2 separate regions of the Homo sapiens genome follow, and region 2 is linked to region 1. The links come from fine-mapping of genetic effects on gene expression. A gene starts in region 1. The other region holds a variant in brackets. All regions are shown on one strand. Distances are between the middles of the regions.

What was found. PIP is the estimated chance that this variant, and not a neighbour inherited with it, causes the effect. A credible set is the group of variants that fine-mapping cannot tell apart.
Region 2: its variant is the best candidate, but not a certain one, in a credible set for the expression of PAIP2 in whole blood (INTERVAL, PIP 0.56).

Annotation. Positions count from the first base shown.
Region 1 is chr5:139,339,164-139,344,691 of GRCh38, forward strand. It overlaps PAIP2 (poly(A) binding protein interacting protein 2), which reads left to right and starts at 2,691. Exons shown (of 4, transcript NM_016480.5): 1 at 2,691-2,817.
Region 2 is chr5:139,301,610-139,306,609 of GRCh38, forward strand. All of the region lies in intron 1 of MATR3 (matrin 3), which reads left to right. Among named protein-coding and RNA genes, the nearest start is that of MATR3, 10 kb to the left of the region's middle. RefSeq lists a silencer at 251-545. The variant G/GA (reference allele first, on the strand shown) is at 2,891.

The DNA.
Region 1 (5,528 bases):
GTGGGGGCCTACTCATAGCCATCCTGGGCCTTCTGATTTCTACTTCAACCTCCATCTTAAGATGGTTACTATGTGAACCAGATAGGTAAATTTTTGCAGTGTTTTAAAACTGGATCTCTCTGTTGGTCCCATTGCAGTGTCTCTCCTTACCATTAGCAAACTTGTTAGCCTTCATTATTTTGTTTTCCATGTATAGATCATCACCATCACTATCCAAGTATAATATTGCTACATTGAAGTTTATTTTGCATGTGAGCAGAGTGTCCTTATGTCTAGAGAATGCCAAGGAAATACTGGGCCCCTGACGCTTAGCCACTGTGGTGAACTCTCAGTGCGATCTGGAAATTGAGATCTTAACCCCTTTGTGTGGGAAAAACAGCATTGGCCTTTGAGTGTTTCACATGATTTATCAAATATTTTTTATTACCATTATAACCAGTTAAGTGGCTTGTGTTACTAAATAACAAATTCAATTATCTCATGTTTACCTTTTTGTTTATTTGTTTGTTTTAAGACAGAGTCTCACTCTGTCACCCAGGCTGGAATGCAATGGCATGCTCTGGGCTCACCGCAACCTCCTCCTCCCGGGTTCAAGCGATTCTCCTGCCTCAGCCTCGCGGGTAGCTGAGACTACAGGCATGTGCCACCACATCCGGCTAATTTTTGTATTTTTATTAGAGATAGGGTTTCACCATGTTGGCCAGGCTGGTCTCAAACTCCTGACCTCATGATCTGCCCGCCTCAGCCTCCCAAAGTGCTGGGATTACAGGTGTGAGCCACCGCACCTGGCCTCATGCTTACCTTTTAAGAGAGTCTGGGTTAGGCCAGGCCCTGTGGCTCACGGCTGTAATCCCAGCACCTTGGGAAGCTGAAGCGGGCAGATCATTTGAGCCCAGGAGTTCAAGACCAGCCTGGGCAATATGGCAAAACCTCATTTCTACAAAAAATTCAAAAATTAGCCAGGCATGGTGGTACACACCTGTGGTCTCAGCTACTTTGCAAGCTGAGGTTTGAGGATTGCTTGAGCCAGGGAGGTTGCGGCTGTAGTGAACCGTGATCATGCCACTGCACTCCAGCCTGGGTGATGGAAGACTGTGTCTTAAAAAGAGAGTCTGAGTCATCTCAGACTATATAAATACCTATTTTGTTATGTTCAGACTTCCTTCAGCCTCAGATTGATAGCTTATCTTCACAGTTTAGAATATAGATCTGTAAGTGCTGCCAAGGTGGTTGACCCAGGAGCTAGGGCAGAACCATCTGCATTCATTTCTTTGGGGCTTTGGACTGGCCCAGAAGAGTATTCAGTGAATGAAATAGCTCTGAAGAGGAACAACCCGGTTTCTAAATTCAAGCCTTCCCATGGAGGGAATTTTTTGTCTTAGTAAATACTACAAGCATATAGTTTTTAAAAGATTCAAATTTTTCAGGAGAAAAGGATAGTTATTTGCACCCATTTCCTAGTCGGTCATTTGCCCTCTCCAAAGGGAAGAAATTAGTTTGTGTCCCTTTTTCAAAGATAGTATCTACACATTTGAACATCCAGATTTGTAAAACACATACTCTCGGCCGGGTGCGGTGGCTCACACCTGTAATCCTAGCACTTTGAGAGGCGGAGGCGGGTGGATCACGAGGTCAGGAGATCGAGACCATCCTGGCCAACACGGTGAAACCCCTATCTCTACTAAAAGTACAAAAATTGGCCGGGTGTGCTGGCGTGCGCCTGTAGTCCCAGCTACTTGGGAGGCTGTGGCAGGAGAATCTCTTGAACCCGGGAGGCGGAGGTTGCAGTGAGCCGAGATGGCGCCACTGCACTCCAGCCTGGGCAAGAGAGCCAGACTCCGCCTCAAAAAAACAAAACAAAACAAAAAAACAAAAACATACTCTCTTCTTTACATTGCTTAGTGTCACTAGAAATATATCTTGGGGCTTGTCAACGATGACAGGAAGGAAGCATGGGTAAGAATAACTATGGGGCCAGTGCACCCAGGATCACGGACTACAAAATTCTTGAACCCGGAGGTCACACTTTTCTATCCTGTGTGGACAGGGCATTTCCTCCTTTAGCCACAAAGAAGTTGCACATGTATTTGTATTTTGCGTTTGCATCCAGCTTCAAAAAGTGTGTTTTTGTGCCTGCACATGTCTGAGTGCGGATGTTTGCATATCATTTAGTACGCCTCTGTGATTTCCCTTAGTTTATTATTTTTCTGTGTCAGGATCTTGACGTGACTCGGTGCATGTCGCTGTTTGTGTGACATTGTGTATCATTCTTGGGGTGTGTATGGGTATGTGTGTGCTATGTCATTACCTAAATATTACGTTTTTGGGGGGGTGTGTGATGTCTGTGAAAGTCCACGCCTGTGTATCTTGTCAGGGTGCTCTTCAGTCCCCAGCTGCCTCACTCATTGCATATCATCATTCTCGGAAGATGGGCGGGTGTGGGAACAGTGGTACGCCCCCATTCCTGCCTTCCAGAGAGAACGTGCGACAGCGTTCCTGCTACACCCGGCAGCCGGCCGTAGGGGCGCGCTGGAAAGGCTGCTGCGCGTGCACACGTGTGCAGCCTTGGAGACAGACTTCGGGGTCGCGCGTTCTCGCGCGCGCTCTCTAGTGGCTTCGGAGGGCAGAGCTGACAGAACAAGAGGGCGGGGTTGGCGGCGACGGAAGTGAAGTCACTTCCGGGCTGGGGTGTTTGTTTGGACTGGAGAAGGGAGGCGGCGGGCGAAGCGCACGTCGAGCGGGGGAGCGGCGCTGCCTGTGGAGATCCGCGGAGGCCGACAGGATTCGTTGGCTGCCGTCCCCGCTGCTGTGCATTGGGTGAGGGGTCCTCTCGGGCAGAGTGGCGACAGGGGTGCGGAGGTCGAGGGACAGCAAGTCGGCGACGGCAGAGGGGCCTAAAGGGTTCCCTGGGTGGTTGGCCACCGAGTCCATTGCGGCCTCCGTTGTTCATTGCCTCTTTCCACCAAGTCTGAGGGATGAGCTTGGGCCGACTTCGTCTCTGTCTTCTCCGAGACATGGCCGTCGCTTTTTTTTCATTGTCATTATTAATGATTTGGATCTCGCAGCTCTCTATCCGGGTCCTCAGTGGCGCGAGGGTTGCCGGGATAGCACTTTCTCCTGTTCCTCATTCTCCCGGTCCTTTATCCCTCCGCCGGGTACCCTTTCCCCTGCCCCCCTCCCACCGCCTCGGCAACAAAGCTTATTGTTTCTACCCACTTTACGCCTGCGCGTCGCCACGCGCAGCCCCTACTTGCTGCGCGTGCGCGCCTCAGCCGAGGCTGGGGTTTGGGGAGAGAGGGGCGGAGGGACTGGCGGGCTCTTGGCGTCTTGGGGGAACGCTGCAACCGTCGACGGGCCTGATCAGAAGATCGTCTTTCTCCCGTTTCTTCGCCATCGCTACCCCTTATTTTTGGTTGTATTGCAGCTCATGCCCTGGAAAAAAGAACCTTTGGGGTACTGGGAACCCTTACCCTAGGAGGGCGTTGAGTTAGATGAACTTTAAGGTCCTCTTACCTTTTAATAATTTTCTGTGCTTACTCTCCTCCTTCCCCACCATCGCCACCAGAAATAAATAAGGCTTGTGGTGAACTTAGGTCTTCAAAACATTTGTTGCAGCAGCCAGCAGTGATATTTTTTAGGGACTCCTAAAAGGGGTCTTACCTGCTTCCTTTTGTTTCTTTTTTCCCTGATTTGGCACCCGTATCAACTCATAAAAACCCCAAACTCTAGAAAGAATTTGGCTTCCAATTTGCCTTGGAAGGTGTAGCAGCTGACAGCCTTTGACGTTTATTTCAACGGAAAGTAGATGTTCATGTTGGGTGTGCTGGCTAATGTTGAAACGTGGTGGCATTGTTTTTTCACAGATTTCATTAGCACAGTTAGATCAGGTGTTGGTTTATATTTTCATTAAGTCGCTTTTGAAATTTCTTCTGGCGTAGGTTGTGTTTGCAATAAGTAAAAGTTCTCTACAATAATTTTTAATGAGACTCCACTATTTGCTTTTGTGATTCTGTTTCCAGTTAGTGAAAGACAGGATATTTGGGGAAAATTAGTCTGTTTATACTACTTGTCAGTTGTGAACTTGAATAAAACTTTTTCACACACACACAAAATCACAGGATAGGTAACTTGACAAGAACTATAGAACCCACTTGTGTTTCTTTAAGGGATGGAGGTTAGGGAATGGAGATTTCCTCTAATGATTCAAGGCTGTGCACGTTGCTCCTTAGGAACTCAAATTGAGGTAGGTAATTTCACCCTCTTTTGGTCAGAATGAGTTTATAGCAGGCTTTTCCTTAAATAAGCACTCTGCACTTTATTCAGGTTTATCACTTTATGACTCTAGAGTGTGATGCTCCAGTTTTAGTGAAAAACTTGAACACTTAGCACAGCAATTTGGTTGATACTGTGGGAGATTAAAGAATGTGGAAGGCAAGACCTCTGCCCCCTTGTAATCTAATAACCTTTTGTGCTTTTAAAACATTTTCTTGTAATTTACATCCTATTGTCATTCATTATCATGAAACGTGAAATGGGCAGAGCAAGTTTTTTTTTTTTTTTTTTTTTGAGATGGAGTCTCACTCTGTCGCCAGGCTGGAGTGCTGGAGTGCAGTGGCGCAATTGGCTCACTGCAACCTCCGCCTCCCCGGGTTCAAGCGATTCTCCTGCCTCCGCCTCCCTAGTAGCTGGGACTACAGGCGCTTGCCACCACGCCGGCTAATTTTTTGTATTTTTAGTAGAGACAGGGTTTCACCGTGTTAGCCAGGATGGTCTCGATCTCCTGACTTTGTGATCCGCCCCCGTCGGCCTCCCAACAGAGCAAGTTTTATCTTGCCCATTTGGGAATTAAAGAAATAGAAGCCTGAAAGATTATTTTTATTTAGCAAATATTTATATAACAATAATGCCAGGCATTGTTCTCATTGCCTTTACAAATATTAACTAATTTGATCCACAACATAGCTAGAAGGTAGGCCCTACTGTAAAATGAAGATAACAAATGAGACGTGAAGTAACTTTCCCAATGTCACAGAGCTATGATAGTCGGAATTCAAATCCAGATAGTCCAGAGATTCTATGCTCTTAACCATTATGTGGTGCTGTGTGATTTAGTGACAGGTCTAGGGTACTTTAAGGTGGCTATGTAGCATAGCTGGGATTTGAACCTACGTCTTCTGACTGTGGTCTAAGATTAAAGTTGTCCAAGTCATTGCCTTTGTGATCTAGACCACCTGTTGCACAGGTGCATGAATAGTTTGCATTTGATATAGGCTAAGGTTCAGTTCCAAAAAACTCCCTTTTTTCTTAATTTTTTCATTGTTTAGAGTGGTGCTGTCCAATGATGTAGGTACTGTGTGTGGTTATGAGCACTTGAGATGTGGCTAGTGTAAATGAAGAACTAAATTTTAATTAAATAGATCTGTGTAGCCGATGGCCACCATATTGGATGGGCACACGTTTGGAGAATTTGAATAGCCTCTGCTTCTTATATCAGTTTGTATAAATTTGGGTGGCATTTCTAATGTACT
Region 2 (5,000 bases), 38 kb before region 1:
CCGCGCCCAGCCCAGAATGGAGCCTTGAAAGAAATCACTGATTTTGCTTAAGCAGAGAAGAAAGTAAAGAGCCAAGTTTATGTCGTAGTTCAAATAGACAATGAACATCATCAGGTACACGGGGTAACTTTCTATCTTGTAATACGGGTTTACTTCATCAATTCTGTGTAGTTCTAATCTGAAACTATTTCTTGCCTGATTGAAGGTCACTGGGAAAAAATTTTAAACCTAGGAAGAAGACAGTATTATTCCAGGTCTGAGTGGGAATTTCTTACACTGGTTAACAAGTAGTTTTCTGTCTTCTCAGCAGCTGACGCCACTCTGCAACATTCTTGTCATTCATTAGCCTAAGGATCAAGAAGTGGACTAAAAATTGACTTCACGTCTGTTAGATGGATTAAGAACAGTGGTCTTAAAGCACTTGAAAATATTCATGCTTGTATTTCAGCCTTCCTGGCACTACACTTTTTTATCTTTTCTATTGTATGATGACACATGCTACTTTACCACACCCACCTAATTTTTGCATTTTTAGTAGAGACGGGGTTTCACCATGTTGGCCGGGCTGGTCTCAAACTCCTGACCTCAGGTAATCTGCCCGCCTCGGCCTCCCAAAGTGCAGGATTACAGGTGTGAGCCACTGCGCCTGGCCTATTTTAAAAACTCTTAAGCCACTCAAGGTACATGCCATACTGAGATGAGATTGTGACACTCAAAAACATAGATTAGAGAGCATAAGATTTGAAAGTGGCTGAAACTCTAGGAAAAAAATGTAGTTCTTCAGCATACTTCAAAAAAACCCTTAAATGAAATAATTGTTACAAAATATGTTAGGAAATATTATATACACCATTAAAATGAAAACTTGTAGTACTTTTAAAATGGAAACTATGGTAAATTCTTTATAAAACCATTATAAAATTTAATAAATGAAGAAAAATTTAAATAGTAACTGAAACCTGTTCTTGAATTGAAAATAAGTTGGATGCTTGGTTTGAAAGTCCTGACCGCAGGAATCAATATTTTTGTGTGATTTATGACAAAAATCAAGCAGCTACCTTCCAAATGGTGCTGCTTTGAAATTACTGACAGTCAACTATGTCTGCCATCTATCAGTGACATAGGTTAAGACATTTTTACTAAATTGGTATTGTTGATTGCTACCTAAAACATATTTGGTATATTTTCACATGAATAAGCTAATAAATGATCAAGGTGATTGGCCTTGATAGAACATTTGGAAAATCTGAGCATTTCTTGCAATTCAGAAGAGGAAAATATAAGAAACTGTAGTTTTCTAGCTGTTGCTTGTAAGTTTCAATGTGAAGTTAAAATAATGTCATTATGAAGGTATTTTTTTCCCTGAGTATCTCTAGTTTTATGGTTAAACCATAAATAATCTTTCATAGTTTTATGGGTAAACCATCTCAAATTAGTTGTTTTTTTTTTTTTTAATTCTGACTACAAAGACTGAGAAGAGAAAAATTATTTTTTTATTTGTTTTGTTTTTTGAGACGATGTTTGCTCTGTGGCCCAGGCTGGAGTGCAGTGCCCCAATCTCGGCTCAGTGCAGCCTCCATCTCCCAGGTTCAAGTGATTCTCCGGCCTTAGCCTCCCACGTAGGTGGGACTACAGGTGCGTGCCACCATGCCCAGCTAATTTTTATATTTTTAGTAGAGACGAGGTTTCACCATGTTGGCCAGGATGGTCTTGATCTCTTGACCTCGTGATCAACCCACCTCGGCTTCCCAAAGTGCAGGGATTACAGGCGTGAGCCACTGCGCCCTGCCAGAGAAAAATTATTTAAAGGAGTGATTATCTCACACAGTTGAGAGCATAGCTGAAGATCCATGTGGAGTAGTAGATACCTCTTAGCATTTTGGGAGGTCAAGGCGGGAGGATTGCTTGAGCCCAGGAGTTCGAGACCAGCCTGGCCAACATGGTGAAAACCCCCTCTCTACCAAAACAATGAAAACTAGCCGAGCATGGTGGCATGTGTCTGTAGTCCCGGCTACTTGGGCTGAGGTGGGAGGATGGTTTGAGCCTGGGAGGCAGAGGTTACAGTGAGCCTGGGCAATGCACTCCCAGGTGTGATGCCATTCCACTCCAGCCTGGGCAATGAAGGAGTCAGACACTGTCTTTTTTTTTTAAACTAAAAATCTTTTCATTTTTTTCTAATACCTTCTAAGAAATTAAAGTTAGCTTGCGCTTATTTTAGTAATTCTGCTAGATATTACTCTGAAAGAATGACTAAGGACTTACCGGTAATCTTTAAGGAAATTTAGATCTGGAACAGCTGTTTGCTTCTGTTCTCCGTGAATTTTCAGGGTATGTGAAATTTTTCAGAAATATTTTAGTACTCTAGTTCTTTTAATTGGAGAAGAAAAAGCCAATAACAAAAATCAGATTCTCATGTAATGGGAGGTAGAATATTAACTGAAACGTTTCCTAACCATACATAGGGATGATACTCAGATTTGTTTAGATGTTGAATGTGAAGCTAACATTTTTAAACAGCTTAAAATTGTATCATAAAATAATTTTAAGTTACAGTTTGTTTTGAGTTGCCTATAAAAATGAATTTTTAAGCTAATTTGTTAAGAATTTGGTTATCGGGCCAGGCGTGGTGGCTCATGCCTATATAATCCCAGCACTTTGAGAGGACGAGGCAGGGGGATCACCTGAGGTCGAGACCAGCCTGACCAACATGGAGAAACCCCGTCTCTACTAAAAATACAAAATTAGCTGGAAGTGGTGGTGTGTGTCTGTAATTTCAGCTACTTGGGAGGCTGAGGCAGGAGAATCACTTGAACCTAGGAGGCAGAGGTTGCAGTGAGCTGAGATCGTGCCATTGCATTCCAGCCTGGGCATCAAGAGTGAAACTCCATCT[G/GA]AAAAAAAAAAAAAAAGAATTTGGTTATCAAGATTGTAGTAAATGGCATTTGTGTAGTGAAATTGTGGGTAATGTTGATAGTTTTTAGGGGGGTGCAGGTGCTTTCTTTTTTGGAAGTGAAGGGTTCTGCATTGATGGGCATTTACACTAGTATATAGAGATTTTAAATAGGTAAATTGGATTTTGATAATAAATGTTCTCCCAAAGCTACTATATTTAAAATTGTTTTAACCTCTAGTGCAGTTTCCTATAGAAAGGCAATTTTATAATTACAGGAAAAAACAATACAGTAAAAGGAGCTAATCTTTTGTAAATCTTTAGTAAGTGTCTCCATATTGTGCTGCCTTTGCTAATAGGCAGTGGGGCCCATGTGAATGAGCCTTTAAAAGTGGCTTGTACATCTTATGTTCAGCATTGACATGATAGAGGAACTGTTTTCATTAATGCTTTTTCAACAATGTTGCCACATCTGGTTTCTCCCAACTTTGTTCTAATAAAACCATTTTTAAGAATTTGGTTTATTTGTGGTTTAATCCAAAATCTAACTTAAGTTGCTTTTCACTAATTTTACCCTAATATCCTTGATGGAGCTGCATTTTACGTTGAAACTGAGTATCTTAAAACTACTAAGGTGGTTATGGAATTACACGTTGTCATGGGATTTACATTGTTTGTCTTGACTCTTTTCTGAGTTTTTCTGACATTCATTTTCTGTTTGTCTTAAGGTTATCCTTTACCTTTGCTTCTCTTAACTTTTTCCTTTTGTTGATCCACTGTTTTCCTATGAGCTACCAAAAAATGTAATTCAGAGCTCTGTAGTCTAACAGTCACATTTCCTTAAAATATGGCCGTTTTAAAAATTTTAAACATAATTGTAATACCATTATATAATTTCTCTTAGGGAAAAAATAATTCAAAAGACTGACTTTTCAGTAATGCAAAGCTTTGGCTACAACATGAAGGTCAAAGCTGCAATTAATAACCCTGATACTTCAACATTTTTATTTTGAAAAACCCTCTAAAGGATTTGATTTGTAAAAATATGTGTGAAAATTTAGAGGGTCCACCACCATTTACATAGCATCTCAGCCGCCATTCTGTCTGGCATTTATAAGACATATCAAAGAAACTTTCATCTGAAGAAGTCCACTTATTCTCGTCTTTATTAATCTTAAAGCTTAAGTAGTTTACATAGTGGATCTTGTCTAGAACTATTAATAGTTTCTTTGGTGTATTTTCTCAAATTCATCTTTCTTGGTGTGCAAAAACATCTTCCTGTAACTCCAGCCACCTCTTATAGCATTTCTGTGTCTTTTAAAACTTGATTATATCTATTTTTTAAAATCCAGTCTAAATCTTTCTTGCCTGCAACTTTTTTTATACTTCCTTTGCCACTGTATTTGTCCATTGTATCCTTGCTTTAATCTATCATTGGTGAAATTGATCCTGTAATAGACTTGTAACTACTGGATATTGTCTGGTTTTACTGTTAAAGTTTCACATATTAAGCTACCAGTGCTGAGTGTATTGGTGATCAAAAAATAGAAAATTTAAGCAATGCCTCATAGAATTCTGTACCAAACAACTTCAGATTTACCTCTGTATGTAGTTGTGATTATAAAATTGTTTCACTGAAGATGTTATGTATATCTTTCAACTAATATTTTATGACAATCGTGATATAAAAGATTTGGAAATTCTTATGTGACAGTTTCTGAGGTACAACAATAATGATTTAAGAAAGAAAACAATTTCATCTAGAAACACGTCTTGGGGGATCATAATCAGAACATAAATTTACCAGGTGATTTGGGCTATTCTTGTGAAAAGTTTACAGGAAACTGTGTAACCAAGATCTCATTTTCATTTTTACCTGTTTTGTGCTCTAGATGTGCTGTAGCCCTGAGCATTAAATGAGTACTGATGGATGCTGATTTGGGGAGTTCCCTTCTTTAAATCACCTGTATTTCCTGTACCTAGGTTTTTTCTTGGGAGGGCTCCTATTCCTGTACTGACCAGAGTTAGTTCTCCTTACTTTAAAAGACTAGATATGAAGTAAACACTGCCTGATGTAGGATGGTCAGTAAGAAGGCAATTAGTTGTATAACTT